Homo sapiens: one gene and its partners. The protein of the gene in region 5 interacts with the protein of the main gene of each other region in a pairwise test. Each region holds a gene or a part of one and is shown on either strand. Other genes may lie near its edges.

The links.
Region 1: the proteins of KRT75 (region 5) and CPNE7 interact in binary tests that used the Homo sapiens proteins (3 or more experiments, as listed by UniProt).
Region 2: the proteins of KRT75 (region 5) and GMCL1 interact in binary tests that used the Homo sapiens proteins (3 or more experiments, as listed by UniProt).
Region 3: the proteins of KRT75 (region 5) and PM20D2 interact in binary tests that used the Homo sapiens proteins (3 or more experiments, as listed by UniProt).
Region 4: the proteins of KRT75 (region 5) and TJAP1 interact in binary tests that used the Homo sapiens proteins (3 or more experiments, as listed by UniProt).
Region 6: the proteins of KRT75 (region 5) and XPOT interact in binary tests that used the Homo sapiens proteins (3 or more experiments, as listed by UniProt).
Region 7: the proteins of KRT75 (region 5) and KIF9 interact in binary tests that used the Homo sapiens proteins (3 or more experiments, as listed by UniProt).

What each region holds. Positions count from the first base shown.
Region 1 is NC_000016.10:89,585,758-89,589,257, reverse strand, and holds part of CPNE7 (copine-7), read right to left. Parts: coding exon 3,473-3,500; intron 2,589-3,472; coding exon 2,502-2,588; intron 2,216-2,501; coding exon 2,156-2,215; intron 1,703-2,155; coding exon of another isoform or gene 1,664-1,702; exon of another isoform or gene 584-1,663; coding exon 450-583; intron 1-449. UniProt on the Homo sapiens protein: Calcium-dependent phospholipid-binding protein that may play a role in calcium-mediated intracellular processes.
Region 2 is NC_000002.12:69,867,660-69,871,159, forward strand, and holds part of GMCL1 (germ cell-less protein-like 1), read left to right. Parts: intron 1-39; exon of another isoform or gene 40-142; intron 143-2,059; coding exon 2,060-2,205; intron 2,206-3,500. UniProt on the Homo sapiens protein: Possible function in spermatogenesis. Enhances the degradation of MDM2 and increases the amount of p53 probably by modulating the nucleocytoplasmic transport.
Region 3 is NC_000006.12:89,149,055-89,152,554, reverse strand, and holds part of PM20D2 (xaa-Arg dipeptidase), read right to left. Parts: exon of another isoform or gene 3,291-3,500; coding exon 3,142-3,290; intron 770-3,141; exon of another isoform or gene 649-769; intron 1-648. UniProt on the Homo sapiens protein: Catalyzes the peptide bond hydrolysis in dipeptides having basic amino acids lysine, ornithine or arginine at C-terminus. Postulated to function in a metabolite repair mechanism by eliminating alternate dipeptide by-products formed during carnosine synthesis.
Region 4 is NC_000006.12:43,476,429-43,480,369, reverse strand, and holds the start of TJAP1 (tight junction-associated protein 1), read right to left. Parts: upstream 2,801-3,941; 5' UTR 2,742-2,800; exon of another isoform or gene 2,284-2,741; 5' UTR 2,138-2,283; intron 1,712-2,137; exon of another isoform or gene 1,652-1,711; intron 1-1,651. UniProt on the Homo sapiens protein: Plays a role in regulating the structure of the Golgi apparatus.
Region 5 is NC_000012.12:52,427,872-52,431,371, forward strand, and holds part of KRT75 (keratin, type II cytoskeletal 75), read right to left. Parts: intron 2,835-3,500; coding exon 2,670-2,834; intron 873-2,669; coding exon 747-872; intron 606-746; coding exon 385-605; intron 1-384.
Region 6 is NC_000012.12:64,414,392-64,417,891, forward strand, and holds part of XPOT (exportin-T), read left to right. Parts: intron 1-515; coding exon 516-598; intron 599-2,306; coding exon 2,307-2,363; intron 2,364-3,500. UniProt on the Homo sapiens protein: Mediates the nuclear export of aminoacylated tRNAs. In the nucleus binds to tRNA and to the GTPase Ran in its active GTP-bound form. Docking of this trimeric complex to the nuclear pore complex (NPC) is mediated through binding to nucleoporins.
Region 7 is NC_000003.12:47,272,800-47,276,299, reverse strand, and holds part of KIF9 (kinesin-like protein KIF9), read left to right. Parts: intron 1-809; coding exon 810-975; coding exon of another isoform or gene 976-992; exon of another isoform or gene 993-1,072; intron 1,073-2,641; coding exon 2,642-2,748; intron 2,749-3,500. UniProt on the Homo sapiens protein: Essential for normal male fertility and for progressive motility of spermatozoa.

The DNA of each region.
Region 1 (3,500 bases), on a different chromosome or scaffold from region 5:
TACAAAGGTGTGATCTTGACTCACTGTAACCTCCGCCTCCCGGGTTCCAGTGATTCTCCTGCCTCAGCCTCCTGAGTAGCTGGGATTACAGGCATCTGCCACCACGCCCAGCTAATTTTTGTATTTTCAGTAGAGATGGGGTTTCACCATGTTGGCCAGGCTGGTCTCAAACTCCTGACCTCAGGTGATCCACCCGCCTCGGCCTCCCAAAATGCTGGGATTACAGGCATGAGCTACCGCGCCCGGCCCCTCACAGTCTGACAAACTCACAGTGCCCACCTCATGGTGCCCCGAGGCCTGACCTGGAGCCCAGGGGGGTGAGGGAAAACCGGCCGGGTGCACCTGTCATAGCTGACCTGGAGACCAGGGGGGTGAGGGGGAAGACGGCCAGGCGCACCTGTCATAGCTGACCTGGAGACCAGGGGGTGAGGGGAAGGTGGTGGGCGCACCTGTCATAGTCCTGGCAGATCTCGCCCACGGACACCAGTGCCTTCAGGTACTCGTTCGGCTGGTAGGGGTTGATGTAGTGCAGGGAGCAGCTGTTCCGCGGGTCTCCATTGGAGGCGGTGAAGTCAATGGCCACCTGCAGTGGGCCGGGAGCCAGGAGCTGTGCTGGGCCGGGGCTCCCCGAACCCGCTCCTGACAGGTAGAGAAACCACGCCCAGAGTGGCCAGGACTCAGGGTCAGGGGTCGCGTAGGTGGGTAGGGCTGGGGGGCTGCTGTTGGGGCTGACCCACCTGCTACACAGGGCCAGGAGAGGTCTCCTCAAAACCTGCCAGCCCCTAGGCTCCCTGGATCTCCGGGAGGACACCCCACCAGGATCACCCTGGCCTTGTGGGGGCCCCGCCCATCCTTCTTAGTGGCCGCCCAACCCCTCTACCACCCTCCCCGGCAGGGCCTAAGTGGACCAAGCCTGGTCTGGGTCCCCCCACGTTTCCCACTTGCTGGCTTCTCCCAAAGCCATTCTGGGGCTCGTTCAACAAAACACGAACCAGCGCATCTGCAAATAACACGCGGGTGACACGGGGGCCGTGTATCTGTGGGTGACACGCGGGTGACACGGGGGCCGTGTATCTGTGGGTGACACGCGGGTGACACGGGGGCCGTGTATCTGTGGGTGACACGCGGGTGACACGGGGGCCGTGTATCTGTGGGTGACACGGGGGCCGTGTATCTGTGGGTAACACGGGGGGCCGTGTATCTGTGGGTGACACGCGGGTGACACGGGGGGCCGTGTATCTGTGGGTAACACGGGGGGCCGTGTATCTGTGGGTGACACGGGGGCCGTGTATCTGTGGGTAACACGGGGGGCCGTGTATCTGTGGGTGACACGCGGGTGACACGGGGGCCGTGTATCTGTGGGTGACACGCGGGTGACACGGGGGGCCGTGTATCTGTGGGTAACACGGGGGCCGTGTATCTGTGGGTGACACGCGGGTGACACGGGGGGCCGTGTATCTGTGGGTGACACGGGGGCCGTGTTTCTGTGGGTGACACGCGGGTGACACGGGGGCCGTGTATCTGTGGGTGACACGGGGGTGCTATGGGGGTGACACGGGGTGTGCGTATCTATGGGTGACGCGGGGTCTGCGGGTGACATGGGGGTGACACGGGGTCTGTGCCGGGCTCCTTGGATGACACGTAGAGACTGTGGCTGGTTCACTCAAACGCTCACTCCAGTTTCTCCTCGTTCACGTTTTGTCTGTTGTTAAATGTGTTTGTGGAAGGTAAGCCCTGGTGATGTCACCTCCCAAGGCGGGCTTGGGGCTGCTTCCTGAACCCCAAGCCCGTTTCCTCGCCTGCGCAAAAGGGAGGACCCCCAGGAGCCGCGCATGGAGACATCGGCTCACGGGGAACCGCCAGTGCCCTTTCACCCGCCAGGCTGGGACCCCTCGGGAGCGGGGCGGGGGCGGGGGCGGGGGCGGGGCCACGGACTGAGGGGGCGGGGATGGGCGGGGCCACAGACTGAGGGGGCGGGGATGGGCGGGGCCACAGACTGAGGGGGCGGGAGGGGCGGGGCCACGGACTGAGGGGGCGGGGATGGGCGGGGCCACAGACTGAGGGGGCGGGGAGGGGCGGGGCCACGGACTGAGGGGGCGGGGCGGGGCGGGGCCACGGACTGAGGGGGCGGCATGGGGCGGGGCCATGGACTCACGGTGAAGTGGATCTGGCAGCCGCCCATGATATAGTCCAGGAAGGAGTACACCCTGTGGAACTTCCGGCCGGCGGAGTCAGCGTCCACCCCCGCCAGGGACACTGAGGCCAGTGCCAGCTGGGATCCAGGCCTGCCTCCCGCAGGCAGCCCAGTCCCTCTGGGGTGCCACCCTCCTCTCCTCTCCCCCATCCTCTCTCCCCAACCTCGCCCTTCCCCGTCTCTCAGCCCCTCCCCAGACGTGCTGGGGCCCACCAGGCCTCTGGTTGAGGGTCCATCCAACAATCAGAGGGAGGCAGCGGAAGCCCCTCTTGTGGGTGGGGAGGCTTCGGGCACAGCCACCTCTCACCTTGAGGTCAGCCAGGACGACCACTCCTGAGTTCTTATAACTGCGTCTCTTCTGCTTGTATTTGGGGTTCACACAGTCCCACTGGGCCTGGGGCAGGAACAAGCAGAGGCCCCCCAGAGTGGTGGCTCTGAACACCTACCAGGGAGACCCTACCCAAGACCATCCCCAATAGCGACGGCAGAGGGCCCCGTGGTGGGGAGGGGAGGGGAGGGCACTGCTGCAGGGCAGCAGGAAGGGGCAGAGTGGGTCATACGGGAATGAAGAGGGATGGGAGTTGCATCCCCCACCCGGCATGGCCCTGTCATTAAGCCCAAGGACACTGAGGCCCAGGGACGGGGGAGGAAGCAGGGCCCAGGGTGGCCTCCCCACTGCACCCTCACCCGGCTGCTGTGGGCTGGGCAGACACAGGGGAGGGCACCCCTTGGCCCCACCTCCCACCACCCCTGTGCCCAGACCCAGATGGTGCCTGAAATGTCCAGCTGAACCTGATGGGGGCCACCCCTGCTATGACCCCTCAGGAGCCAGCACCAGGGTCCACCATCCTCAGCCTTCTCTGGTTATAACAAGTCATTGTCACCACTCCCCACAACCCCATCAGGACAGTGGGACAGGGTTTCACAGCCTCTGTGGCAGGGCCAACACAGGCGTAGCCCAGGTGTGCCCCCGACTCACCTGCCCCTCCCCAGAGGCCCCCCTCACCTGCCCCTCCCTGAATGCCCCCTCCCCCTGCTAACTGCCCCTCCCTGGAGGCCCCCCTCACCTGAACCTCCCCAAAGGCCCCCCCAACCTGCTCCTCCCCAGAGGTGCCCACCCACATGCCCCTCCACGGAGGCCCCTACCCCACCCCCCACCTCCTCACCTGACACTTCCTGGAGGTACCCCCCCAGTCCTGCTCACCTACCCCTCCCCGAAGGCCCCCCTCCACCCCCACCTGACCCTCCCTGGAGGACCCCCTACCCCGTCCTGCTCACCTGCCCCTCCTCAAAGGCCTTCTGCATC
Region 2 (3,500 bases), on a different chromosome or scaffold from region 5:
ATGTTAAACTCACCTGGCTAAACCCCAACTCTTGTCAAGGGTTGCACTCCATGCCTGCATCCAGACAGATGAATGTGATTAAAGACAAACACCGTACCCCATTGGGTTCCACTTGAATGTGGTAACCATGAACTTGAAGTAGGTTAGTGCTGCATCATGATCTGTCTGCATTTTCCTAGTGAATTGATCCTCCCATTAGCTGAGGTAACTCATACCTTCTCTCCTTAAAAGGGCAATGCTCCCACCCTTATTCTTATCTGATGGCCTTGCTGCCTACTGCAATGAAAAGAGAATCTGTACATCATCTTACCAGTAGTTCTGCCAGTCTACCTGCACCTGTAGCTATGCGCTATGCATTTCATCTTATTAGAAAAATGAACTGCCTACTTCTATCTTAGTCCATTCCCTCTCTTTGTACTGGACTCTATCCATGCTCACCTATTCAAAAGCTTTGCTCCAGCCAGGCACAGTGGTATGCACCTGCAATTCCAGCTACTTGGGAGGCTTAGGTGGAAAAATTGCTTGAACCCAGGAGTTAGAGTTCAGCCTGGGCAATATAACGAGACCCTGTCTCTTTAAAAAAAAAAAAGCTTTGCCCTTACAGTTATCACCTCTACTAGGGCAGAAACTGTATGTTATTTACTGCTATGATTCCATTGCTTAGAGGAGTGCCTGGCATATAATATGTGCTCAATAAATATCAGTTAAATACTGAATTGCAATTCAGGGTGTCAGCCAAACACTTGAAGCCCTAACTACTTCTCTGTATCACACTACCTTATCTGATACTCTCACATTAACTATTAGCTGATAGAATAAACAAACTCGTGAACCCCATGATGATATTTAAATAACCCAGTTGTGTGTTACTTGAGTTAGAGTATTTTATTTTTATTTTTATTTTTATTTTTTTTTATTCTTTTTTGTATTTTTAGTAGAGATGGGGTTTCGCCATGTTGGCCAGGCTGTTTTTGAACCTCAGACCTCAGGTGATCCACCCGCCTCGGCCTCCCAAAGTGCTGGGATTACAGGCGTGAGCCACCACACCCAGCCCTTAAGAGTATTTTTAAAGCAAGGTGGATTTTAATGGGCTCTTAATTACCTTAGTGCTCTAGAAACTCTTAGTGCTCTAAGCTATATACCCACTTAGAGTTGCAGTGAAAAGCCTTATTATTGCTGGGTGCAGTGGCTCACGCCTGTAATCCCAGCGCTTTGGGAGGCCGAGGCGTGTGGATCACAAGGTCAGCAGTTCAAGACCAGCCTGGCCAACATAGTGAAACCCCGTCTCTACTCAAAATACAAAAAAAAAAGGCCGGGCACAGTGGCTTACACTTTGTAGTCCCAGCACTTTGGGAGGCCGAGGCGGGCGGATCACCTGAGGTCGGGAGTTCGAGACCAGCCTGACCAACATGGAAAAACCCCGTCTCTACTAAAAATACAAAATTAGCCAGGCTTGGCGCATGCCTGTAATCCCAGCTACTCAGGAGGCTGAGGCAGGAGAATCGCTTGAACCCGGGAGGTGGAGGTTGTGGTGAGCCAAGATCATGCCATTGCACTCCAGCCTGGGCAACTAGAGCAAACCTCTGTCTCAAAAAAAAAAAAAAAAAAATTAGCCGGGCGTGGTGGCAGGGACCTGTAGTCCCAGCTACTTGGGAGGCTGAGGCAGGAGAATCGCTTGAACCCGGGAGGTGGAGGTTGCAGTGAGCCAAGATCATGCCACTGCACTCCAGCCTGAGTGACAGAATGAGACTCTGTCTCAAAAAAAAAAAAAAAAAAAAAAAGCCTTATTATTTATGGTAGAATTGCAGTATGGAGAGATAAGGAAACTGATCATGAAGAGGAAAGTAGCTTAGAGAATTATGATCATTAAGGGCAGCTTTTCTAGCTTAGATAAATAGTTTTGGGTGGTAAGCCTTAAGAAAAAGTCACTGACAAAAAGTCGACCACCCATGAGGGAAATACTTGGAATGAGTTAGAGACAAAAAGACATTTTGAATTTTTTATTTTCTACTTGCTAATATGATAAACTGAAATAAGTCTTCTCTCTTGTATTTTTTAGTACTGCTGGCGTTGGACAGGTTTTAACTTCGGCTTCGACCTACTTGTAACTTACACCAATCGATACATCATTTTCAAACGCAATACACTGAATCAGCCATGTAGCGGATCTGTCAGTTTACAGCCTCGAAGGAGCATAGCATTTAGGTAGGATGAGATTTCCCCACCCCACTCCTCCTCACTCCAGAGAAAATATAAGAAATAAAACCTTGATAATTTACACCAACATTAGTAGAACTTTGGTAAGCTACAGTATATGTGGAAGTGGTAGGAAATGACGAGGCTCCATTCCTGTGAAATCTATTGTTAGTAATCAGAATCATAGGATCTAGTATGTCAGGGAGAATGAATAGGCTGGAATATATACCAGTAGGGAATATCAGCCTTGAAGTCGTTGCCTTGTTGCTATTCCTAGCAAATAAAAGATCCAGACTGTTGAAATATGTAGCAAGGTATGTTTCCAGGAAAACACATATTATCCTTAACTTTTTAAAGGATTTAATATGTTAAATTTTGCCCAGTAGTTGCTGGCAATCTTTTTCTGAGAGGATACCAGAAGCTGACAAATTGGACAGTAGCTTAATGAACATGATTTAAAAGTCATATATTTATACTTACCTTACACCAAATACAAAAATTAACTTAAAATGGATCAAAGATCTAAGCATAAGAACTGCAACTATGAAACTCTTGGAAGAAAACATAGGGGAAAAGCTTCATAACAATTGATTTGGCAGTGATTTCTTCCATAAGACACCCAAGCACAGGCAACAAAAGAAGCAGTAGATAAAATTGGACTTCATCAAAATCACAAACTTGTGTATCAGAGGACAGTGTCAAGACAGTGAAAAGGCAACCCATGGAATGAGAGCAGATATTTGTAACGCTACATTTGATAAGACATTAATACCCAGAATATATAGAAAACTCCTACAACTCTATAATTTAAAAAGAAAACTCAACTCAGCTCAAAAATGGGCCAAAGACTTCCATAAACATTTCTCCAAAGAAGATATATAAATGGCTAATAAACACATGAAAAGATGTTCAACATTACTAATTAGGGACATACAAACCAAAATCACAATGAGCTATCACTTCACACCTATTAGGATAGCTATTAGTAAAAACAGAATAGAAAAAAAACAACAAAAGTAACAGGTGTTGGCAAGGATGTGGAGTATTTAGAACCCTTGTGTACTGCTCGTGGCCATGTAAAATGGCACAGCCACTATGGAGCATGGTATGACACTTCCTCAAAAAAATTAAACAGAATTACCATATGATCCAGCAGTTTCTCTTCTATAGACCAGAAGAATTGAAAATAGGGACTTAAACAGATATTTTTGTATACTTATGTTCATAACAGCATTATTCACAATAGCCAAAAGGTGGAAGCAACCCACATGTTCACTGACAGATGCTAGAGAAACAAAATGTGG
Region 3 (3,500 bases), on a different chromosome or scaffold from region 5:
CTAGTATTAAAGCAGTTGTTCCTGACCAATATCCAATATTTTATTATGTTCCAAAATGCCTACATCACTAATATTTTACATTTTAATAAACTGTTAAGTTCTCACACCAGTCTAACTGCTCTAATACAATTAAAAAAAAAAAGATTAGAGAAAGGATTGCGTGTTGAATAGTTACTTATAAAGCTCTGTGATTGACGTGCTTTGATAACACTTTTTAAGCCTGATTAATAATACCCACATTTAGGTGATTAGAAAACCAATCTGGACTTATTTTAATGGGTTAGATTCAGGAGTCCTTAGAATGCTTATGATATTTCTTCTCAACTGATTCCAGACATTCTATTAGCAGGACAAAAATCAAGTAAAAACATCAAACACGTATTAGATTTCAGGATACTGTATTGTTATTTCCTTGATATATATCTTATCACCATGACCTTGAAATGAATTTTTTTTTTTTTGGTACTCATCTCCCTCTGTCACCCTGGCTGGAGTGCAGTGGCGTGATCACAGCTCACTGCAGTCACCACCTCCCAAGTTCAAGCAATCCTCCTCTGCCTCAGCTTCCCACAGATGAATAGCTGAGACCACAGGAGTGCTCCATGCCCAGTTAATTTTTTATTTTTTTTTGTAGAGACAGGTTCTCACCATGTTGCCCAGGCTGGTCATGAACTCCTGGGCTCAAGAGACTCTCCTGCCTTGACGTCCCTAAGTGCTGTGATTACAGGTGTGAGCCACCTGGCCTGGCAAAACCGGAATTTCATCACAACTGGTGATAAATATTATAAAAACGAGAAGGATTATATGGAATTATTTTCAAGACATACTATTTAATTTTAAAAAGCCAGAACAATATATTGAGTGGAATACTTGAGGAAAACCTTCTTTCACAATTTATACAGGATTCTATTTATGTCCCATAAGTACACCAAAAACACTCTGAAAAGGATACATACCTCTAGAAAAAGGACTGGATTTGGGAAAGGTGGTCAGCAGGATTGCTTTATCTTATTCATTAGAAATTTGTGGTTGGGCCTGGCGGCTCATGCCTGTAATTCCAGCCCTTTGGGAGGCCAAGGCGGGTGGATCACTTGAGGTCAGGAGTTCAAGACCAGCCTGGCCAACATGGTGACCCTGTCTCTACTAAAAATACAAAAATTAGCTGGGTGTGGTGGTGCTTGCCTGTAATTCCAGGTCCATGGGAGGCTGAGGCAGGAGAATCCCTTGAACCCAGAGGCGGAAGCTGCAGTGAGCTGAGATTGCGCCACTGTACTCTAGCCTGGGTGACAAAACGAGACTCTCTCGGAAAAAAAAAAAAAAGAATTTTTAAGAAAAGTGGATTAGTAATTTAAAAAAAAATGAATTCTTGATCTTGTTCTCTTTTTTTTTTTCTTTTTTTTTGAGATGGAGTTTCACTTGTCTGGTGGCCAGGCTGGAGTGCAATGGCACGATCTTGGCTCACTGCAACCTCCGCCTCCCAGGTTCATGCAATTCTCCTGGCTCAGCCTCCCAAGTAGCTGGGATTACAGGTGCCCACCATGCCTGGCTAATTTTTGTATTTTTAGTAGAGATGGGGTTTTGCCAAGTTGGCCAGGCTGGTCTCGAACTCCTAACCTCAGGTGATCCACCTGCCTTGGCCTCCCAAAGTGCTGGGATTACAGGTGTGAGCCACTGCACCTGACCTCTCTTTTCTATCTTAAAAGATGACCAATGAAGGCCAGGTGTGATGGCTCATGCCTGTAACCCCAGCACTTTGGGAGGCCGAGGTGGGTGAATCACTTGAGGTTAGGAGTTCAAGACCAGCCTGACCAATACGGTGAAACCCTGTCTCTACTAAAAATATGAAAATTAGCTGGGCGTGGTGGCGCACGCCTGTAATCCCAGCTACTCAGGAGGCTGAGGAAGGAGAATCACTTGAACCTGGGATGCGGAGGTTGCAGTGAGCCAAGATCGTGCCACTGCACTCCAGTCTGAGCAATTGAGTGAGACTCAGCCTCAAAAAAAAAAAAAAAAAAAAAAAAAAGAGATGATCAGTGAGAAAGCTAAGAAGGCAGATACTAGGAGAAGGTCTGGGGTCAAGTGCGCTGACTTCAGAACCAAGACCACGAAGCCTAACCTTAAGTCCCAGAAGGGTAATGAGCTGCAGAGCCTGCCTGCATATGCAGGCCCCTTCTAGTCAAAGGCAAGGGCAGAGATTTCTAATCCCCAGTGTTTTCTAGAGATGGACTAGTTTACCACCACCCTTGAAACCAAAGTTCAAAGATTCCTCCTACTGCCACAGTACCAATTTCCAGTGATAAGAAGGAAGATACCCTAATAGTTAAAATGATCACCCTTTGAAAACAGGGCCTGGTAAGGTGCTAAGAGGTGGGATACCCGGGTACAATCTAGAAGCACTGCTGTGATGGTTCTGCTATCATTCCCTCAGTACCGAGCTACTTCTGAGGAAAACACATGGTTTTGCTGAAGCAGCTGAGCACTGGCTCCTTGTGCCTGGACCATTAACTACTATAGTTACTACTATGGTTGAAATTTCTGGTATAAAAAATCCAAACCACTTCAATGATGTGTGCTCCTAGGTACTAAAAAGTGAGTTCTTCAACATAAAGAAAGACAAATAAAAGGTTTCAGCACCAGACAAATCGGAAAAGCACAGAATGAGAAGTTCCACAAAAACCATAGCTACTCATGTTCCATATTCTCTCTCAGGACATAATTTATCCTCTTTGCAAAGAACTCAAATTAAAGTAAATAAAATGGATAAGTGTGGTTTCTTCCCATAGCTAATAGAACGATCTCTCGCAAATCTATTCAGTTGCAAAGACAATTTCATATGAAAGGACAGATGTTTTCCAGACACCAGATTATTGACAGTTCAAAAGAGAACTTAATTGTCAACATGTTTGTTATTCCTATGGTTTCTAAGTGCTACTATTTTAATACTCCAATTATGAACACCATAATGAATCTCAATTAGAAGAGGCTTGCCAAATGTCACTCCATAGATCAAGACATCTTGTTATTGTCTTTCAATTTACTTCTTAAATATACAAATGTGGAGTTTTCGTCTCTGGTTTAGACATAAAAGTATTCTATAGCCTGTGTTCCCCTAAGAAGTTTATCTTCAACTTGATTACTCACTCATGTTCAGCCATATCTGGTAGATAAGCAGCATTCTCTTGTGATGGGTGGGCCATAAAAACAACATCAAGATTTGTAAAAGCCCCTGCTTCAATTAAATCAATTTTGCCACCACCATCTTCTTCTGCAGGGGTTCCCAGGACAACTACCTAGAAGGAAATACTCATGTCAGGGAAAAACAACAAAATCCTCATAGGAATATATCAAACAGGTTCACCTGCATATGTATTCACAATCTACATTAAAGTCCTTAACCTATTAAGACAGGTTTTGTTCTATGACGCTTACGCAATGGGCATCAACAAATGGTGCTAAATTAATCACAAAATGTACATTGTTATACCAACTTGGTGCAAAGT
Region 4 (3,941 bases), on a different chromosome or scaffold from region 5:
ATTTTAACATTGCCTTAAATAGCCTAATGAGGATATTCTCACGACAAAAAAATCTGTATTATCCAAAAGCTCTGCTTCATCTCTTTAACATCAGGCTAGCAGCCCAAACCAATGCAGATGCTATCTATATAAAGAGACAGCAGGTTCAACCATGAAACAGAAATTAGTGCTGAGATCTGACTAGTATAACTAAAACTTACTGTCAGGCACTGAGTAAGCATATTAATGTATTAACTAATTTACCTTCACAACAACCCTATGCGATAGATACTCTTACTACCCACATTTGATTGATAAGAAAACTGAGGCATACAAAGCTATGCCATTAATAAAGGTCACAGAGCTACAAATGGCAAAGTCAAACAGACTTTTTTTTTTTGGAGACGCTTTTTTTCTTGAGATGGATGGAGTCTTGCTCTGTCACCTGACTGGAGTGCAGTGGTGCAATCTCAGCTCACTGCAACCTCCACCACCCAGGTTCAAGCGATTCTCCTGCCTCAGCCTCCTGAGTAGCTGGGACTACAGGCGCATGCCACCACGCCCAGCCGATTTTTGTATTTTTAGTAGAGATGGGGTTTCACCTTGTTGGCCAGGATGGTCTCGATCTCTTGACCTCGTGATCCGCCTGCCTCGGCCTCCCAAAATGCTAGAATTACAGGAGTGAGCCACTGCACCCTGCCAGTGCTTTTTTTGTTGTTTCTTGGAGACTGCATCTCCTACGCTGCCCAGGCTGGAGTACAATGGGTATTCACAGGTGCCATCATAGTGCATTGCAGCCTCAAACTCCTGGCCTCAAGTGCTCCTCCCATCTCAGTATCCCAAGTAGCTGGGACTACAGGTATGTGCCACTAGGCCGGGCTCAGAGTCAGTGCTATTAACTGTTATGTGTGTTCACCACACTACCCTTGGGTGATTACAATTACAATTTGAAAGGGGGCACGAATTGTCCTCAGAAAAAGGAGGTTCTCAACCTTCAGAAACAGAGTCACAGCTACATATCATCAGTTCTTCAAATACCTAAAGGTACTGAAGCTGACCTAGTAACAGTGACTTGGGTTGTTCTGTTTGGAGTAAGCCTTTGATTGGGGGGACAGGTACAGAGCAGACAGTAAATGAAGAGTTCTAGATCAAACCATCCTAGTCCACCATGAAGCGATGCTGATCCTGAAGCAGGCTTCAATAAGAAGGCTACTCCCAACTCTGGCTAGGGCAAAACACTCACCAAAGGAAGTGAAGGCCACATTCACTGTGTTCTCTGGCTCCAGTCCCTTTCCTTTCTCTCCAACACCAAATCCACTACCTCTCAGGCCATGCTTAGTTTGGCTACTGAGACTGATATTTTTCAAAAGTGGTTTGATGGGAAGATTACAAAGGAGAGAAAAAAACTACCAGAAAAGAAAAGAGCAAGTTCCATGATCCTTTCTTTGCATCACCACACTTGTCCAACTGTAAAGTAGCTCTCAAATATTAGGGGTCTCAAGGATAGGCAGTGCGGTGCTAAACATTCCCAGAGCTTTACATCAGTCCACTTGATCTCTTACCAGAAACTGATCTACATTTTTTCTCTCTAATCCCAACCTGCCTTTCCCTCACCTCTGATACCCCCACCAAAATCCACATCCCCAGAGGAACACTAATGAGCCCTTCTTACCAAAAAAGCAAAAGTAGACACACAGCGAGAATGAATTCAGGAGTCAGTGACAGCAGGTACCTAAATGGTCAGTGAACACGATCAGAATTTGTTTTCTCGTGACTCCCCACCATCTGTCACCCACAAATCTCCACTTCCAGGCAGGACGCCAAAGTGAAGAAGTGATGGGGATATTGAAGCAGAAACAATGAGCATGTAGGAAACTGCTTGTGACAGGGATGTGTTAACATCCTTCGGCCTGGTCTCTAGGCCTCTGTCCAGGTTTACTTGCATAGGTGAAGGCACACAAGGCTTAATTCTACACCAACTCTCAAAAGTCAGCCTGCAATCTACGCCAAACACTAACTTAAGGACCTCAGACAAAGGACAAACTCTATAAAAGTGAGCCCTTTTCAGACCAAATGTTTCTTGGCATCACTCTAAGCCCATGCATCCTCCTCCCAGGGAGCATGCCAGCCAGAAACCTGTCACTGGAAGCCACCTTACCCGCTCTGGGGTTGGACTGGGGCAAGTCGCTATCTCTTCTTCTTTCCAAGTAGGCACTGTAATTTCTTCCAGTCCCTGGGGCACCTGAATCTTCAGCTGAAATTGGGGCAGATGCTGCTAACAGCTGTGGAAAGGCTGATCTAAGCCTAGAAGAGGGTCATTTGACTGGCTTTAGTTCCCTCCTTAGCAGATCTGCCCGGCATCCTCCAGATCTCTCTTCCTCACTATCCCACTCTACTAGAAAGATCCCTTTCCCCTCTGGCCGGCCAGATACAGTCGGGCCTCTATCCCACGCTCCAGGCTTCTTTATTCGCGGCTAAGAAATTTTCCTCCAACTTGTGACTCTGCTTCTCCAGGGCCTGCACAACACCTACTTCTGGCTGCCCCGCCCCCAAATCCCCCTCCCCTAGGGCTGCCACTGGACCCTAGGGCCCCGGTCCGCCCCAGCTCCTTTTTTTCCTCTCCGCCTCGGACCTTACTCCATTCCATCTCCTCTTTTCAACCCTGGAGCCAGTACCCCCTTCGCCCCTACTACAGGCTAGGGCCCCCGCAATCCTCCCCAACTCTGGCTTCCCCGCCCGACTACTCCAACCCCACAACAAACTTTCCGCCGCTGCCAGCTGCGTTCAGGCCGCCATCTTGCCGCGGGGCAGGCCGGGTAGTGGCCAGGGCCGCGGGAATCCCCACGCACTTGGCGTGTCGCGTCATCTGAGGCGGGGCCATGGGGGCGGGGCCTCGGGTTGGGGAGGTGGGACACTAGGTAGGTGATGGTGAAAAATGGGGCTCTCCTGAAAGCAGGGATTGGAGGACTGGCCACAGAAGGAAGGAGGTGTCAGGAGCAGGGCAATAGCGGGAAGCGGGGAAAGAATCCAGTACTGAAAGAAAAAAAAAAAAAAAAAGAATAGGGGAACACATCTCAAAGATACAGTGGGAGAGAGAATCGTGCTACTGGTTCCCCGTCATCCAGAGAATAAAACCAGCTTTTCAGTTTGGCATTCAAAGATCCGCATGATCCAGGCTCTTCCACCTTCATCAGCCTCATTTTTTGCCTCTCCTGGGAACTTCAGGTTCCCAAATTGTCCTTTGTTTTCAGGACATCGGGCCTTAAGATGTCTAATCTCTCTCCTCCTCCTTTGCATCATCAATTCCTCCTATTCCTTCAAACCATCAGCTAAAATGTCACCTCCCCCAGAAAGATTTCCCTTTAGTGCTCCTTTTGCTGGGCATCACTAGCAACTTGTACATAGCTTTACTGTAGCTGTCCCGTGCAGTGTAATTATTTATTTACATGTTATACCACTTTTGCCCTGCTGCTTCTTCAGGGCAAAAACTATGTTTGATTGCATCTTCATACTCCCTAGCAGGTGCTTGGCACACAATAATTGCCTAATGAATAAATGGCATGTTTTCCTCCAATGCATTAAGCATATTTCTGCCTCAGGGTCTCTAAATTTGCTATTCCCCATACCTGGAATGTTCTTCCTCCAAATATTGACTCTCATTTGTGTCTTTGCTCAAGTGTCATCACTTTAGAGAAGCCTTCCTTGGCCACTCAATCTAAATCAGCATCCCTATTCTCCTTTACCCTGCTTTAATGTTTTCATTCATAGTACTTATCATTATCTGACATTATATTAAATATTTATTGTTTATTGATCATCTCCCCACTACAAAGCAAACTCCAGAGGTCTGGGATGTTTTCTTGCTCATCACAGTATCCCCAGTGTCTAAAACAATGCCTGGCATAGTAGGTATTCAATAGATTTTTTTTATTCTGTTTGTTTAATTAATTAATTAATTTTTG
Region 5 (3,500 bases):
AGGGAGACTGACTTTCCCAAGGTTATGTAGCTACTTAGTGTTAGATCTGTAAGCCCAAATCCTAGGACTGTTTGTTCTCAGCCCATGGCCTTTTAGACCACATTTCGAGAGCTGCCATGTAACCAAATGTCTCCTTTGGTAGAATTCAGTTACTTAGACCTGATCAGGTTTTAGGTTTCTATGGGGATGCTAACTGTAGTTGCACCTCAAATGATTTACTAGCCTGGAAGGAAATTAAAATTATTTTTTTGCCATAGCCCAATTCTGAACTGCATTTTCTTCCAGGAGAAGAAGGGGCTGCAACAGCCCGAGCCCCTAGGAATGCCCAGGAAGCTGAGGTGAGCTCAACTTGCTTTGAGGATGAAGTTGGTGCATCTGCCTCACCTGCACTCCTCGCCTTCCAGCAGCTTGCGGTAGGTGGCGATCTCCACGTCCAGGGCCAGCTTGATGTTCATCAGCTCCTGGTACTCACGCAGGAGCCGAGCCATGTCCTGCTTGGCCTTCTGCAGGGCCTCCTCAAGGTCCACCAGCTTGGCCCGTGCATCCTTGAGAGCCAGTTCTCCCCGCTGCTCTGCATCAGCAATGGCCGTTTGCAAGCTGGAACACTGTAAGGACAGGAGGAAGCCATGAGTCCTGCTGACAGCCCATGGAGGTGTGGTGCTTCTTGGGGAGGAGTTCTTAAAGATGGCAGAAAGGCCCAGAAGAAATGAGCATTTGAGGAGCTCTTGGCCCTGCCAAATCTTTACCTGCTTCTTGACGCTGTCAATCTCAGCTCTCAGCCTCTGGATCATGCGGTTCATTTCAGAGATCTCTTGTTTGGTGTTTCGAAGGTCATCCCCATGTCTGCCTGCGGTGACCTGCAGCTCCTCGTACTGAGAGAACCAGAGCAAACCCAGTCACTGAGTCAAATGCCTGGCCCAGGCACTCGCTGTGCACACAGACCCACCCTGGGTGCCACAAGCAGGCTCATTCATTCCTGGTCATTCACTCATTCCCCCTGAAGCTTACAGTTTATTGGGGGACATAGACATTAACTGAATTAGCATATTATCAAATGTATAGTTCCACACTAAGATAAGTGCCCTTAGGAAATGAACAGGGTCCTGGGAGAGTGTAATGAAGGAATCTGACCTAGATTTGGAAGTGGGAAGTGGTGGTCAGAGAAGTCTCTCCAGAGATGGAGATGCTTGAACTGTGGTCTGAAGGATGAGAAGGAGGGACCTAAGTGACCAGTTGTGGGGGAGAACATTCCAGACAAAGGAAACAGCCTGCATGAAGACTCTGGGTCAGGGAAGGAACATGGTGAGTTCTAGGAGTGAGACGGTGATTTGATCAAGGTCCCTGGGTAGTTCCTGGTCACAGAGCGTGCATCCAGACCAACTGTGCCCATGAATTTTGGTAGCCCTCCAAACACCAGTGCTGGGGAAACAGGGAGGAGATATGGGGGAATGGTGTGGGATGGTGCAGAGGCTGTGGAAGGCACAATTTTGAAGACTTTGTAAAAGTATTCCCAATCTCAGGTAGTTCTCAATCTAATGGTGCATATCCAGGACATGTGAATTTAAGAGCAATAATTACACCCTGTCTCCTCCAGCAGACTGAAGTGAAACCTACACCTTTCCCTGACAAAAGGAGATCCCCTGCCAGAGTCAAGATCTGTGGGGTTCTTGAAAGTGCTGAATAGCTCAGGTTCCCGCTTCTAGGTATACATGATTAAATGGAGCAACAACCCAACAACATGAGGAATCGTTTGCTATCGATTTCAACCACTTCACCTTGGGGTTAAGTGCATCATGTTTCCTTTCACCGTCAAGGCGCTGCCTCTGCCCTGTGGAACCCTGGTCCCTGCTACCCACCTTCCTTTCCACCACACTCCTGACCAGAAGGGATGAGGCAACGTATGGAGCAGGGAAAGAGTTGGAACCTGCTCGTAGGTGAGAAGCTGCCCCAAGAGGGGTCTGGATTTGACAGGGAGCTGGTATCATGGGTCAATTGTACCCCGCAAAGCCAAACTTCTTTGCGGCTGTCTGAGCTCTGGGCAGTAGCTGTTTGTGTTTATCCCAGCCTTCCTCTTCCTGACATAAACTCCCTTGCTTGTTCTTGCCTGCCAGCTCCTTGTTCAGCCTTAAACCTCTCCCCACTCCTCAGCAATCTTTTGTCCCTCATGGCTTCCCAACTGTACAAAGCCCCCATGTCTTCCTGGAAGCTTTTTATTCATGCTATCTTTTCCCTTCCATGATTGTCCATTCACTTCATGGCCTCCCAGAGCTTGGGTTCTCTGTTTGCAGTTTATTTATTTGCAACCCTGTAACCCTGATTGGCATACAGCAGGAGCTCAGAAAATATATAGAGAATAAATAAGCCTTTTAGAAACTGCTTCATGACTGTGTCTCGGTTGTCCTGGTGTCTCACCCTGCTCCCACCCAGATCTTGAGGAATGTGGGGCCAGTGGATGTCCTGAGCTCCCAGCATTGGGCTGACCATGTATTAGTGTGTCTGGTTCGGTTTCCACATGCATTTCAAGCTAAGTTGTCATAGCATCAAAGACATGCCTGCTAAGTTGAAATAAACGAATGTGCTCACACGTTTCCTGAGGCTGAGTTAAGTGATAATGTGGAGCCTCAGAGAACACTAACCCTGGAACCTCTCATGGAGGTGTCCATGCTCACCTTGGTCTGGTACCAGGACTCAGCCTCGGCCCGGCTGCGGTTGGCAATGTCCTCGTATTGTGCTTTGACCTCGGCGATGATACTATCCAGGTCCAGGTTGCGGTTGTTGTCCATGGACAGCACCACGGATGTGTCACCGACCTGGGTCTGCAACTGGGACAGCTCCTGCAGGGCAGTAAACTCAGCATCACCAAGGCATAAGATGAAGAATCTTAAATCTTCGTGGTTAACTACCCATCTAGGTCAGGAATCCTTTCCTTGGTATTCCTGGCAGATTCTCCCAGCTATTCCCTAGGTATTCCCATTCATCCCAAAAGATCAGTGTGGTGAAAATCTTTCCCAGCCTTACTTCTCAAGGCTCCCATCTGTGTGCTTTCCCCAGGCATGAGGGTGGGTAAGCATCCTCTGAATTGGAATTACATAGATTTGAATGTGACACGTGTCTGTTCAGTATGCCAACATAAACGGCTTCTTTAAGAGCATTGGGGACATCTGGGACACTGCTTCCCCCTGCACAGTGTGACTCCATCACTTTCTACCTCTCTCTCCCTTTCCACAGACCCAGGTCTCTGCCTTTGGAGGGGTAGCGCCCAGAATGAGGCATCTTCAAAGGGTAGGAAGCCCCCTGACCAATGAGCTGAGGGACAGCTTGCCTTTTTTTTTTTTTAATACTTTTCAGGGAAGGGGAAGGGAGCAGGTATGTGTTGATTCCTTGGGAAATTACCCAGTGTCCTAGAATTTGGGAATCAGTACTCTCTCCTTGTTAGATGTTGTCCTGCCATGGGATAAGGGAGTTCGGGGGAGAAGCATCAGAGCTGGGGTAGTTTAGTA
Region 6 (3,500 bases), about 12 Mb from region 5:
ATGATATAATTAAAGACTTGAAATACTCTCCTGTGTAACAGTAGATCAGATAAGGTACACAGTATGTTTTATCTTTTATAATCACCGCTTTAATAGCAGATGTGCTATTAAATAGGAAAAGTGCCCTTCACGTGCCATTTTATAATTGCATATTATAAAATGATCACACCCTTAACTCATCCTCTGCAATTTCTCAGTAGTATGGCACTTGACAAAGCACTTGCTCTCATTCTTCATAATAACCCCATGAAGGCTGCGGGGCATTTTTGTGTTGTTGCTGCTGTAAGAAAACAGGTTTGATTATCTAACTGATGGAATTTATATTTATTTAACCTATTTTTAGGAATGACCCCAAGTTGCATATATTCGGAAGCCTGCATTTAATGTTTTAACTGTTTTTCTATTAAGTTTACTGATTTGTTATAGGTTTGCAACTCTCAGAATATTTTGTTTATATTAGCAGGGCATTGAGATTGTTTATTCTAAATGCATTTTTTTGTTTTGCAATCTTATAGGCCCTGGCCTATTTTGAGCAGTTAAAAATTTCCCCAGATGCCTGGCAGGTGTGTGCAGAAGCTCTAGCCCAGAGGACATACAGGTAATTAAAAACAAAATTTGCATGACAATTTAAATTTCTGTGGACATGACAGGACTGTGAAATTTACCTGTATTTGGAAAGTGTTTTCATAAAAACATTTTATGACTTTTTTTTTTTTTTGCAAAGCCATTAACATATAGTCATTCCATGTAGAAATGAGAAAAGTAGTAAACCCAGTTTGGCCATTTCAGAATTAACTTTTCAGTAAAACCATCCTTTGGTATATATTGTGTACCTGTCACCAGATCCCAGCTGGAATAAAGTGCAGTAAAAACTTCCTTATCTTATGATTGAGGGTGATAACTGCTTTCCTAAAACTTTGGTAAAGACGGTGATTGTAAATGATATATATCTTAATTTTAAAATTATTTATTTATTTTATTATTATTATTATTATTTTCTTGAGATGGAGTCTCGCTTTGTCGCCCAGGCTGAAGTGCAGTGGCGCAATCTAGGCTCACTGCAAGCTTCGCCTCCTGGGTTCTTGCCATTCTCCTGCCTCAGCCTCCTGAGTAGCTGGGACTACAGGTGCCCATCACCATGCCCGGCTAATTTTTTTGTATTTCTTTTTGGTGGAGACAGGGTTTCACTGTGTTGGCCAGGATGGTCTCGATCTCCTGACCTTGTGATCCGCCCGTCTCGGCCTTCCAAAGTGCTGGGATTACAGGCGTGAGCCACCGTACCCGGCCTATATCTTAATTTTTAATTTTAACTTAAGGTATATAATCATTCGGTGACCAATCTTTTAATATTGGACCACAGTCTTTATCTTTGTATACTAACTAGCATTCACTTTATTCGTAGGTTGGTCACACCTGTAACCCATCCTCTACAATTTCTAGCATGGGTCTCTGTACAATGAGTGACGATCCATAGATTTTTAAGATATTTGTCCCCGCCTCTCAAGTCTTCTGGTTATATAGGCCATGTCAAATATGTACAAGATTTTTTCCTTCTGCAGTGTGGCTTTCTATGAAATCTTTCTAAAGCATTCAACTAACTTTTTACGGAAATAGGAACTCTCTTATACTCACTTCATTGGCAGATTGTTGGTCTCTAGAAGATCTTTGTCAGTGTTTATAGCTGGCTAACTGCAACTCTGCCACTCCCCTAGAAAGACAGTTGGAAGTGGGTAATTGGTGTGTTGACTTTTGCCCCCATCTTGTATAAGCAAGGGTACCATATTTGTAATTTAGTGTCCTGTACGAAACTTTGAAGTTGGACTGACAGTCCATGTGGCCCTGCTTGTTTTGGATTTGGCTACAATAGAACTACTGGGGTTGAATTTTAAGCAGGACTTGGACGACCATCTTTACTTTCACTCAGACTCTGTCTGTTCTGCCATTTGTAATTTTACACCTAACCTGTTATTGTAAAATGAAGGGACTGTTCCAGGAATCTTAATATCTGGAATTTAGAGGGATGGTTTGCTGCTTACAAAGCATTGTATTCAAGGTGCATCTTAATATCTTGGTTAGTTTGCTTGTCAGATTTAATGGAAATTTTAAATATTGTGTAATATTTAGAGTTCTCATAGCTTTTTAAGTAAATGGATTTTAATGTCATAAAATGAGACCAGTAAGTATGAAACAAGCCAAAGGTCTAGTTTGAGAAACTTTTCTGCTGTATTACTCATTACTATTTTGCCTTTGATTTGTTTTCCTCAGTTCATATTCTGCTTATCTCATTTTCTTTTTTTCTTTTTCAGTGATGATCATGTGAAGTTTTTCTGCTTTCAAGTACTGGAACATCAAGTTAAATACAAGTAAGGCTTTTCTTACTGTTTTGACTCAGATTTGCGGGGAGAGGTCATTTTTTTAATTTAATGTTTTTCTTCCATAAGGAAACCATAATACAGGTTGTAAATTCACAGTGTATATGTTATATCCAGGTTATAGATACGTTTTGATGTACCCCAAAGTGTTTTAAAAGTGCTGAGTTGGCCAGGTGAGGTGGCTCTCGCCTGTAATCCGAGCACTTTGGGAGGCTGAGGCCGGTAGATCACTTGAAGTCAGGAGTTTGAGACTAACCAGCCTGGCCAACATGGTGAAACCCCGTCTCTACAAAAAATACAGAAACTAGTCAGATGTGGTGGCATGCACCTGTAATCCCAGCTACTCAGGAGACTGAGGCACGAGAATTGCTTGAACCTGGGAGGCGGAGGTTGCAGTGAGCCGGGATCACACCACTGCACTCCAGACTGGGTGACAGCGAGACTCCGTCTCAAAAATAAAAAAAGTGCTGAGTTTGTTGGTTACACATAAAAATCCAAGGCTGGGCGCAGTGGCTCATGCCTATGATCTCAGCACTTTGGGAGTCCAAGGCAAGAGGATCGTTTGAGCTCAGGAGTTTGAGACCAGCCTAGGCAACATAGTGAGACCTCATCTCTACAAAAATTTTTTTAAAAAATTAGCCAGGCATGATTGCGCGCTTCTGTATTCCCAGCTACTGGGGAAGCTGAGGCCAGGAGGTTGAGGCTCCAGTGAGCCATGATGGTGCCACTGCACTTCAGCCTGGGCAATACAGCAAGACCTTGTCTCAAAAAAAAAAAAAAAAATGAAAATCCAGATATTTCACAGAAAAATCTAGATTTCCAGCTTTTCTGGAAAAGTCAGAATATCTGGTAACACCAGGCCTGTTTTTCTACATGACAATTCTCTCTTAGAGTTAAGTAGCTGCATGGGCACTTGTGTTCAGAATCTCTGACTTACTAATTAAGCAAAATAACAAATCACTACTGAGAGGATTCCTAGTTCACCTATTGGTTTATTCTGTAGATCACAGACCACAAAACATTTTCATTCGAAAAATTGTGTAGCCATCATTTGTTTCAACATGAACAGAATCACAAATTAAAGATTGATATTGATGCCCTACCTGCCACTCTTGTCCTTATCTTTAA
Region 7 (3,500 bases), on a different chromosome or scaffold from region 5:
ACAGGCGTGAGCCACCATGCCCGGCCAAGTCTGTCTTTCTTCATCTTAATTTTTCTCTCTGTAGCCAGGTATAGCTCCTGCATTAGGGCAGTCAGTGTAAGATTTCAGCAAGAGTCTTTACATCAGAAGTTCTCATCAAGAAGATTGGAATCTACCACTGACCTTACCCAGTATGTCCCTAAGCCAGCTGCTACTACAATGGCTTACTATGAAGGGGCATGCATCTAAAAATCTGCTGATGACACCCTCAATTTACTCTTAATTCCTATGTCTGAGAAGTCCATAGCCTTCTCTGTGGCTTTCATTTCATCATCACTCACTTTGGCTCATAGCGTGTGTGTGGAAGTAGATGTTCACCATAATGCAGAGCTGAGGGAGGCCTCACTGCCAGCAACCAGAGCAATGAGGCTGGAGCCCAGGCCTCTGTTACCAGGCTCACTATTCCCTCTGGCATAATTCAAGGCCTCCCTATGCTTATGGAATCTATCTAAAACTTGTTTAATAAGAACATGATAAATTTGACCTCATATCATAGGTGGGGAAACAAAGACAGCACCGTGTGAACTAGGGTTAGAGGTGCTAAAACTAGAAAGTGCTCCACTCTCCTGATCTTTCCATCTCCCTGCAGGAACTCTCTTCTCCCATCCCAAAGAATTCATCTGGAATATCAGCCCCTACGTGGGAGTCCCCATTCATCCTACAGTTCATTTCCTCTGTTCCCTCCAGATTAGGCCTCAGCTATCAGTGATTTTTTTTATACCCATTTTTGAACAAATAACATTTTTTTCTTTCTCACTCTTTTTTCCTAGAGCATTGATATTCACTTAAAAAAAGACATTCGGAGAGGAGTTGTCAATAACCAACAGACAGACTGGTCGTTTAAGTTGGATGGAGTTCTTCACGATGCCTCCCAGGACTTGGTTTATGAGACAGTTGCAAAGGATGTGGTTTCTCAGGCCCTCGATGGCTATAATGGTAACTTAATTAATTAAATGTTGTCTTATGTAAGAACCTGAGGAGTAAGAGATGCAAATATTTTATGGTGAATAAAATAAAAGCTCACTCACTATCATTTGTATGTTTGTCTGTCTCCATGTTCTTACGTTGCAAAACTTACTGTTTGCTTGTTGACATTGTGGGCATGGCTTGATCCAATGTCCTGGGATTCTACCTTCATAGGAAAATTAAAAGACTATGGCTCTCTATAGGTCACAGGGGTTCAATTATCCTGTTTCAAATCTCTCAAGTATTAGTTTTGAAGATACGTCTTTATGACAAATTTGATGGAGTCCAAACATTTGTCTCTCAGCTTCCTGCTAGGAGCTATTTTCATGTATTCTACCAACACAATCAATGTACAGTTGATATTCTAGTATAGGATTGTATAAAAGAATATGTCACAGTTTGTAGACTTTGCCATCTGGTGGCTGCTGACTAGGATGTTCCCTGTTTTGCAAGTTTAGGTTTTATATTTAAAAGTGCATTGAGTGTAGATGCTGTAATTTATCCTGAATGTGATACGTAGGTGTGGTCCCCACTGACTTAAGGAGGTTCTCTTTTGGTTTTCATGATGCTCTGATTGTGACCTTGAGGAGGTGAAGACAGAGGAACTAAGGCCCAGGGAGATGAATAGTCTTGAGCACTGGTGCTGTGGAACCACAAATGGGCTCTGATTTGCAGCTGAAGTGACTCCTTCCTGTTCATTTGTGTTGGGTTAATAGACACCATTTCTGGCTCCAACTCAGATGCTGAATCAGGATCGCTTGTGTAAAACCTGCCACCAGTCCCAAGAACTAGAGTGTCTGTGTGACAAAGGCAAAAAATTTTCACAGCCCAGCATTGCCTGGGCAGATCTGCCATGTAAATGCCCATGGGCAGCCTGTGGGATGGGGTCTGGCTCAGGCTGCCCATGCTAAGGGGAAGAACAGATAGGAGCCGGAGCTCAGGGTGACTGCATGGTTTGTGTCCCGGAGCCTGGTGGTGATGGTAGACCTAAAGGATGTTGAGAAGTGCAATGAAAGTCTTCCCAGGGTGGGCAGTGGACCAGATCAGGGCCTGATCATGGTGGTACATTTCTGGAAGTGACATGGAACCAACTAGGAGCCCTGTTTCATCCTGCAGGAATTTGTAGTCTACAAAGAATTCTCACCCTTGACAGAAAATGCCCTTTCCACTCCATCTCTTCCTGGAGATTTTGAAAGCCCCTCTTTGCCTCTGTGGGGAAGTTGATGCCTCCTGCCAACCCTGAGACCCTGGCAGTTCATAGCTGTGCTAGAGAAGGGCTGGAGTCTAATGCTCCTATCTCCCTCCTCATCTTTTTAGGAAAAGTTCCAGTTCCTCTGTACCCTGAGATTCCCTGTCCTTCTCAGAAGCCCTAGGGCCGGATCATCTCTTGGTGGAGGGAACAGCAGAGCATTGTGGGGACCACAGATTCAGGGCAGATGTCCTTGTTTTGACCACTTTTGTCCCTGTTCCCCTGCCCACCCATCCTCTTCCATGGTGGAATTCCTGATGTTCTTGGCTGCCCCCACTGGCCATCTTCATGCAAAGGGCCCTGGCTGGCACCAGGCATGCTGGGAGAGGGGAGAGTTATCCTTGGAGCTATTTTCCTGGATGTCACCGTGTTTTGAAATGTTTGCAGGCACCATCATGTGTTATGGGCAGACGGGAGCTGGCAAGACATACACCATGATGGGGGCAACTGAGAATTACAAGCACCGGGGGATCCTCCCTCGTGCCCTGCAGCAGGTAGAGAGTGGGCCCAAGGGTGGGATGCCACACAGGTTCCCTCTCTCTGCCATAGATGTTACTGACCCTGGGCCAGCTACTAGAGACAGTGGGGACCAGGCCTCAAAGGAGTTGCAGTGGATACTGGTACTGGAGACAACATACACAGGGCTCTGGAGTCAGTAGAGTCAGGGGCCTCAGGAAACCAGGAGGTTGGGTGTCAGACTCTGAGCCATACCCACACTGAGCCTGTTTCCTCATTTGGGAAGGAGGGAGTCAGGCATGCTAATCAGCCTCTTGCTGCTCCAGTGGTCTGTGATCCTGTAATTAAGGATTTGGAGGTCCTAATCATTCTCTTTCCTGGTTTTAATGAGGGGCATATAGACCCTTGCAGAACTTCCTTACTGGCCTACTCTGGCTTTTTTCACCACCACAGCCCCTGAAAGATCAAAAGCAAGAAGGAGGGCATGACTTGAGCTTTCAGGACTGTGTCAGCCCGGGGGGTCTCAATAGCATAACTGAAGATAAGACAGAAGGGCCTTCCTTTGGGCCCCACTAGCCTGGGTTCTGTAAGGACCCTCTGGTCGGAGGTAGGAGGCAAAAGCTGCCAAGAGGCAGCTTTACAGCCCTGTCCTATAAGAAGTGTTATAGGACAGGATTTTTTGCAGCCCTGTCCTATAAGAAGTGTATACATTCCTCTAGTATGTGAACCATCCATGCTCCTGTTTTTGGAGCAATACCCTTAATATCCCACTGTCAAAGCTTCAGTATCT